Regions from separate parts of the Homo sapiens genome. Here regions 1 and 2 are each linked to region 3. The links come from fine-mapping of genetic effects on gene expression. A gene starts in region 3. Each other region holds a variant in brackets. All regions are shown on one strand. Distances are between the middles of the regions. Region 1 has its middle 33 kb from the start of APOD. Region 2 overlaps LOC124909478 (a long non-coding RNA gene). Region 3 holds the start of MUC4 (mucin 4, cell surface associated).

What was found. PIP is the estimated chance that this variant, and not a neighbour inherited with it, causes the effect. A credible set is the group of variants that fine-mapping cannot tell apart.
Region 1: its variant is the best candidate, but not a certain one, in a credible set for the expression of MUC4 in sun-exposed skin (GTEx, PIP 0.79).
Region 2: its variant is the best candidate, but not a certain one, in a credible set for the expression of MUC4 in ovary (GTEx, PIP 0.76).

The regions. Positions count from the first base shown.
Region 1 is chr3:195,615,573-195,618,332 of GRCh38, reverse strand. No RefSeq gene overlaps it. Among named protein-coding and RNA genes, the nearest start is that of APOD, 33 kb to the right of the region's middle. The variant G/A (reference allele first, on the strand shown) is at 1,313.
Region 2 is chr3:196,027,945-196,030,704 of GRCh38, reverse strand. The region is part of intron 1 of LOC124909478 (a long non-coding RNA gene); the gene reads left to right. Among named protein-coding and RNA genes, the nearest start is that of TFRC, 53 kb to the left of the region's middle. The variant G/A (reference allele first, on the strand shown) is at 1,207.
Region 3 is chr3:195,810,762-195,813,521 of GRCh38, reverse strand. MUC4 (mucin 4, cell surface associated) reads left to right here and starts at 1,593. Exons shown (of 25, transcript NM_018406.7): 1 at 1,593-1,786. The coding sequence starts at 1,705.

The DNA.
Region 1 (2,760 bases), 200 kb after region 3:
GTGGGGCCAGCGTCCACCTTCCAGGGTGAGCCAAGAAGGCAGACCAGCGTCCAGGACTCGCAGAGCTTTCTGAACCTCTGTCGCCTTCCCCGGGTACTTTTCTCATCCAACACATAGTTCCCCATGGAAGTAAAAACCCTTAAAAGACGAGAAAGGCCTATGATTGTGCCTTTCGGGGTAGCTGGGTGGATTGAGGCGGGGGAACCTCCAGAGACAGGGTGGGCAGTGCTGCTGCCAAAGCGAGGGAGCCGGCAGAGTCCTTGGGGCTCCGGCAAGGGAAAGACGGCACCCCCCACCCTGCCGAGGCCCCTCCTGAATGAGGGCCGAGAACTGCAGGGTTGGAGCCTGGGAACCATGGAAACCGTGGCCAGGCATTTTCCACAGGACACCGGGAGCCCCTGAGGCAACACCTAGCTTTTCAGAGAGCGGCTGCCGGCACTTCTGCCCAGAGCAGAGGCCTGTTCCCTTGACTGGCCCTGAGGTGGGAGGAATGGGAGTCCCCGAGGGAGGCTACGGTAGGATATCTTCCCTAGAGACAGGGTCTTGCTCTGTTGCCCAGGCAGGTCTTGAATTCCTGGGCTCAAGCGATCCTCCTGCCTCAGCCTCTTGAGTAGTTTACTACAAGATCTTTTCTGGCCTGAGAAAGGGGGCCTCCCCTGTCTAGAGGGAGATCGGGCTCTCCCTGTGAGTGGGCCAAGGAGCCTCTTGGAGAGGGTTTCTAGATTTAGCAAATAAAAATACAGGGTACTCGGTTAAATTTGAACTTGCATTTCAGATAAACGACGAATAACTTTTTAGCATGAGTATTTCTCATGCAATATTGGCTACATACTTACACTTAAAAAAATTGTTACCTGAAATTCAAATGTAACTGGATGCCCTGTGTTTTATCTGGTAATCCCAGTCTTGGAAGGAAAAGGATCAAATACGAACCCCCTAATTCTCTGAGCCTTCTTGGTCCAGCCCACACAGCTGGAAGCCCAAAGGTGGCGCTCTTGGAGTCTGACCTCCCCTGGCACAGGGTTTGAGATGGTCTTTACCCAGCTCCACTGGCCCAAAAGTAGCCCATAGACCCAAAAGGGGCCTAGCACCTCTCCCCAGGGCATCAGGATGGGGCCCCAGGTCCCCAACTGGTTGTCCTGTGGACCTCAGGGAATGACGAGGCAGGAGTCAAGAGCCTCGGTTGCAGCTCCCGCTGTGCTGCCCACGACTGGCTCCGGGGTCAGATGATCTGCTGGTTCAAATCCTGACTCAGCCTCCTACTAGCCAGGCCAGTCTCTAGACCCCTCTCAGCCTCCATGTCCTCACCTGA[G/A]AAAACAGGGTCACAATACCTGCCTTGCCAACGTGGTGAGGACCAGCGGAGAAGATGAAAGGGCTTATATTCCAAAGCCCACAAGGTAAGCATCCCTCCACATGGAGTCCTCTCCCAGGCCCCTGGAAAGCACGCATAGTCGATTTGACTATAGTGAGGAGTGCGGGCTGCACCCCCAGGCAGTATAGGCGAGTCCCGGGCACCCAGTCTCATCCCTGGTCCGGTGCGGCCCAGCTGCACACACAAATCTCACTTTTGCAGGAACTGTTCATCTGCCTTCATAATACAGTTTCTTCTCCCCACTTCAAGCCTGAGATCATTTCTCTGAGCCTTCTTGGTCCAGCCCACACAGCTGGAAGCCCAGAGTGGTGCCCTTGGAGCCCGACTTCCCCTGGCACATTTTCTGGCTTATCCAGGAGCCCCGGGGTGTCCTTTCTGCTGTGAAACCTCCTCATGCTCCCCAAGCCCACAGCCTCTCGGGTCCAAGGGGGTCTTCTCGAATACAGCAAATCCCGGCCCAGCCCCTCAGTAGCTCTGGAACACTGCGGCTCTCCTGGTACAATCTTCAAATCTGGTGGAGAGGAAAGCGTGTGGACTTGGGACCCTGAGTTGGAGAATCTGCTCTCTGCCCTGTGACCCTGGCCAAGTCTCTCAGCTCCAAGCCTGCATTTCCGCACCTGTAAGGTGGAGCTAACGGGACACGTGCAGCGCAGACCAGGCCACGGTGAGCACAGGCAGGAGGCCACGGGGTGCAGTGCTCAGGCCTGTGAGGAGTCAGATCCTGGCTCCGAGGAGTTGTTACTGGATGCCCAGAAGCACAGTGGCCTCATCCTCAAAGCAGTGGAGGTGGGGGGTGGTAAGAACAGGGCCGATCTTGCAGGGCCGTTGTGAGGATTAAAAATACAATGTATGATAATGATGCGTCAAAGTAGGTTCCTCAGTCCTAACAAATGTGCCACTCTGGTGGGGGACGCTGATGATGGGGGAGGCTGTGAGTGGTGGGGATGGGAACTCCAGACTCTCCACTGCAGCTTTTTTTTTTTGAAACATAGTTTCACTCCTGTTGCCCAGGCCAGAGCGCCACGGTGCGATCTCAGCTCACTGCAAACTCCACCTCCCAGGTTCAAGCAATTCTCCTGCCTCAGCCTCCCGAGTAGCTGGGATTACAGGCACCTGCTACCACCCCGGCTAATTTTGTATTTTTAGTAGAGACGGGGTTTCTCCATGTTGGTCAGGCTGGTCTCGAACTCCCGACCTCAGGTGATCCACCCATCTCAGCCTCCCAAAATGCTGGGATTACAGGTGTGAGCCACCACACTCGGCCTCTCCACTCGAGGTTTAGAGCGAGCATAGAACTGCTCTAAAAAAAAAAAATAATAAATCCTTTTCTATTTTTTAATGTATGTGATGAGTTTGGCACAACTCCTATTAGCGACAGGTCAGGGTTC
Region 2 (2,760 bases), 220 kb before region 3:
GACTAGCTGTGGGTCTGTTGTGTATGGCTTTTATTGTGTTGTGGTATGTTCCTCCTATACACAGTTTTTTGAGGGTTTTTATCATGAAGGGATGTTGAACTTTATCAAATACTTTTTCGGCATCAATTAAAATCATCATATGATTTCTGTCCTTCATTCTGTTGATATGATGTATCACATTGATTGATTTGCATATGTGGAACCTACCTTGCATCCCTGGTATCAATCCCACTTGGTCGTGATGAATGATATTATTAATATGTTGCTGAATTAGGTTTGCTAGTATTTTGTTGTGGATTTTTGCATAAATGTTCATCAAAGATATTGGCCTGAAGTTTTTTTTCTTTTGTTCTTTTTTAAAATGTGCCTTTGTCTGGTTTGGTATCAAGGTAATATTAACCTTGTAGGATGAGTTTGGAAGTATCCCCTCCTCCTCTATTTTTTGGAATAGTTTGAACAGGATTGGTATTAGTTATTTAAATATTTGGTAAAATTCAGCAGTGAAGCCTTCAGGTCCTGGGCTTTTCTTTACTGGGAGACTTTTGATTATGGCTTTGATTTCATTATTAGTTATTGGTCTGTTCAGGTTTTGGATTTCTTCGTGGTTCAATCACAGTAGGTTGAATATGTCTAGGAATTTATCCACTTCTAGGTTTTCCAATTTATTAGCAACATATAGTTTTCATAGAAGTCTCTAGTGAGCCTTTGAATCTCTGCAGTATCCGTTGTAATGCCTCCTTTTACATTTCTGATTTTATCTATTTGAGTCTTTTTTCTTTTTTTCTTAGTCTGGCTAAAGGTTTGTCAATTTTGTTTATCTTTTCAAAAAACAAACTTTTTTGTTTTTTTGATTTTTTTTTATTTCAATTTCATTTATTTCTGCTCTGATCTTTATTATTTGTTTTCTTCTGATTTTGGGTTTGACTTGCTCTTGCTTTTCTCGTTCTTTCTTTTCTTTTCTTTTTTTTTTTTTTTTGAGACTGATTCTCACTCTGTCACCCAGGCTGGAGTGCAGTGGTGCCATCTCCGCTCACTGCAACCTCTGCCTCCTGGGTTCGAGCAATTCTCCTGCCTCAGCCTCCTGAGTAGCTGGGATTACAGGTGCCTGGCACCACACCCAGCTAATTTTTTGTATTTTTGGTAGAGACAGGGTTTCAATATGTTGGCCAGGCTGGTCTTGAACTCCTGACCTCAAGCAATCCACCC[G/A]TCTCAGCCTCCCAAAGTGCTGGGATTACAGGCATGAGCCACCGCGCCTGGCTCGCTCTTCTAGTTCTTTAAGATGCATTGTTAGGTGGTTTATTTGAAGTTTTTCTACTTTCTTTCTTTCTTTTTTTTTTTTTTGAGACAGCGTCTCAATCTGTTGCCCAGGATGGAGTGCAGTGGTACAATCTTGGCTCACTGCAACCTCTGCCTCCTAGGTTCAAGAGATTCTCATGTCTCGGCCTCCCGAGTAGCTGGGATTAGAGGCGTGTGCCACCCCGCCCTGCTAATTTTTGTATTTTTATTTATGTATTTATTTAGGAGACAGAGTCTTGCTCTGTCACCCAGGCTGGAGTGCAATGGCACAATCTCAGCTCACTGCAACCTCTGCCTCCTGGGTTCAAGCGATTCTCCCACCTCAGCCCCCCGACTAGCTGGGACTACAGGCACCCGCCACCACGCCCAGCTAATTTTTGTATTTTTAGTAGAGACAGGGTTTCACCATATTGACCAGGCTGGTCGCTGGTCTTGAACTCCTGACCTTGTGATCCGCCCACCTCAGCCTCCCAAAGTGCTGGGATTACAGGCGTGAGCCACCGTGCCTGGCCTGTAATCTTTAAAGCTCAATAGAAATGTAAGATCTTGCTATTGTTATGCGATTATAAAATCTTCCATTCCTTGCTTTTTCCTTGGTTGCTGGCCTAGAAACTAAATCAATTCTGTTCTCTTTTTATTTTTTAAAAGTAATCTCGAACATGTGAAATTGCTGATATTTTAATGTATTGCTGATGTTTCATCTATTCCAATGGTAGCTTCCTCTGGTTTCTTCTAATAGTTAAAACTCTATCATGCCTATAATCCCAGCACTTTGGGAGGTCAAGGCGGGCAGATCACCTGAGGTCAGAAGTTTGAGACCAGCCTGGCCAACATGGCAAAACCCTGTCTCCACTTAAAAGATGAAAATTGGCAGGAGAATCGCTTGAACCCGGGAGACCTTGGTTGCAGTGAACCAAGATTACACCACTGTACTCCAGTCTGGGCAACAAAGCGAGACTCAGAAAAAAAAAAAAATATATATATATATATATATATATATATGTATGTATATATACACACACATATCAAAGCAATATATTTGTATAGTGAAACCTCAGACAGTGCCACTAAGTGAATGATAATATAAAACTCTTATTTCTTATTTTGCTATGATGTTAGGTTCTCAACAATCATTCCGCCTGCTGGTTTACCTTGGTCTTTTTTCCCATTGAGATGGGTTTCCCTTCAATGTCTGGTGATTCTTCATTGTTCACATTTAATAGTGACACGTGAAGAAGGAGAATGAGTCTGTGTTATCATTAGTGAAAGGCTCGTCTAGATGGTGATTCTTCACTGTTCACATTTAATAGTGACACGTGAAGAAGGAGAATGAGTCTGTGTTATCATTAGTGAAAGGCTTGTCTAGATGGTGATTCTTCATTGTTCACATTTAATAGTAACACATGAAGGAGAATGAGTCTGTGTTATCATTAGTGAAAGGCTCGTCTAGGTGGTGATTCTTCA
Region 3 (2,760 bases):
AAATGATCACGAAGGCCAAGCTGGGCCTTGGTGTCTGCGAATTCCCTGCAGTAGGTCCCTCCTGCTGCCCCGTCCAGGCGCCCACAGGATGCTCCACATGACTCTTTACCTTTATGATTTTCTTACCTCCAGGAAAGAACAGGGTCAGCTCGTCCACCCAGAGCTGGAGGGACTGTTGGGGGACCACGCCACTTCCCCACGGTATCCGCATTATTATGGCGTGGCCCAGGCTTTGGCCTGGGGCCATGAACAGACTTTCAGCTTCTAGAAGCAAGTGGTCACAGGGCCTCCGTGACCCTCGGAGACAGCGCCACAGCGTCGGTTGCCTACTCCTTGCTGGACAAGGCTGGCTCTGCTTGGGAATGCAGAAACCCTGAGTCCTTGTCCTGGGCCCCACAGTGTCTGAGCATCGAAGGTCCCTGCTCTGGGACGAGTCACCCCACAGACACCCCACATTCGGGAATCAAGTCTTGAGGAATCAGAAGCAGAGATTCACACTGTGGCAAAGAGGGGAGCGGAGGTATCCCCGTTTTCCTTTGCAGAGAGCTACACCAACTGCCCTCTTCGTCTTTACAACCCTACTTGGGGTCCCTTTCCCTCCTCGCTTGTGCCTGTGAGTTCCAAGAGGTGGAACTGGGGTGAGCAGAGCCCCCAGGTCTCCAGGAGCAGCTCCACCTCCTCACAGGTTACAGTCGCTTCCTCCTACCGAGGTTCTGCCTTCAACCCACTGCCCATGCCAGCTCCCTCAGGCCAGTCTCCCAGACTGTCCCTGGCTCCCTGCACCCTGGCTCCAGCTCCCTGCCCTGGAAAGAAGAAGTCCACCATCTGGTGAGGGTCTGCCACGCATCTGGGGTCTGCCATGCGTCTGCACTGAGGTTCTGCCACGAGTCTGCACTGAGGTTCTGCCATGCGTCTGGAGTCTGCCACGCGTCTGGGGTCTGCCACGCGTCTGGAGTCTGCCATGGGTCTGGGGTCTGCCATGTGTCTGGGATCTGCCGTGCGTCTGGGGTCTGCCACGCATCTGCACTGAGGTTCTGCCACGCGTCTGGGGTCTGCCACGCGTCTGGGGTCTGCCACGCGTCTGGGGTCTGCCACGCGCCTGCACTGAGCAGATATTCCAAGCACACCACCCCTTTCCAAAAGACGGCATACAGTGCATTTCTGTTCCTGCCCCTCACCCACATGGTTCCCCGCTTCCCAATTCCTTGGGGTCTGCTTAAGTCTCACTCTCTTTCCCCCATTCATACAGCCCCAAGGTCGCTCCCTCTGGGGCCCTTTCTTCCCCATTCTTCCCAGCAGCCCAAAGCTCTGGTGGGACAGGGGCAGCCCCTGGGGAGGGAGGAGAGGACCCAGGAACCCGGCTAGGAGGGTGGCCCACCCATTTCCAGTGTGACCTGTTCCCATTCCCCCATGTCTCCTCCCATCCCTCCCGCCACTCAGCTCAGGCTGATGAGAAGCAGAGCAACGGGTGTATCGGTGTTTTCTTTCCTGGTGGGGTAGTGGGGTGGGGCTGAGGAGAGAAAAGGGTGATTAGCGTGGGGCCCCGCCCTCTTTTGTCCTCTTCCCAGGTTCCCTGGCCCCTTCGGAGAAACGCACTTGGTTCGGGCCAGCCGCCTGAGGGGACGGGCTCACGTCTGCTCCTCACACTGCAGCTGCTGGGCCGTGGAGCTTCCCCAGGGAGCCAGGGGGACTTTTGCCGCAGCCATGAAGGGGGCACGCTGGAGGAGGGTCCCCTGGGTGTCCCTGAGCTGCCTGTGTCTCTGCCTCCTTCCGCATGTGGTCCCAGGTAAGTGATGGAGACAGCAGATGAGGCTGGCTGCGGGGAGCACTTGGGGGAGGTGGGAGCTGTCAGAGAAAGAGGTCCGGGGAGACAGAGAGAGAGAGAGAGAGAATAGGGGAAAGGGAGACAGCGAAGAGGAAGAGAAGGGAGAGAAAAAGAGGGAGAGGGAAAGGAGAAAGAGATGAATGGGACAACATGGGGGGAAGGTGGAGAGAGACCCAGAGAGGGAAAGAAGAGGAAGAGAAGAGGGAGAGAGAAAGAAGAGTGGAGGCCGTGCGCGGTGGCTCATGCCTGTAATCCCAGCACTTTCGGAGGCCAAGGCAGGAGATCACCTGAGGTCAGGAGTTCGAGACCAGCCTGGCCGACATGGTGAAACCCCGTCTCTACTAAATATACAAAAATTAGCCGGTCGTGGTGGGCCCCACCTGTAATTCCAGCTACTCAGGAGTCTGAGGCAGGAGAATCACTTGAACCTGGGAGGTGGAGGTTGCAGTGAGCCAAGATCGCGCCACTGCACTCCAGCCTGGGAGAGAGAGCGAGACTCTGTCTCAAAATAAATAAATAAATAAATAAATAAATAAATAAATAAATAAATATAAAATAAAATAAAAAATAAGAAGAGGAGAAAAGTGGGGAAGAGGAGGCATGAACTGGCAGATACGGGACAAGATCTGAGGGGAAAGACAGAGGGAGAATGCTCGAAAGAGAGAGAAAAGAGAACAGAGGGCCAGAGAGCAGCCCGGCGATGTCTGGAAGGATCCATGGTGAGAGCCCAGGCTTACTCGCAGAGAGAAAGACAGGCAGAGCCAGAGCAAGAGGAACAGAGTCAAGGAGAAAGATGTACACCCTTGTGTACAGAGCTGGGGGTAGAGGGGATGCCAGGAAAGCTGGGTGATGGAGACGGAAGAAAACTCATGTAAAGCTGCAGGGTGAGAGGACGAGACAGGTGAGACGCAGACAAACTGAGGACCCTGGGAATG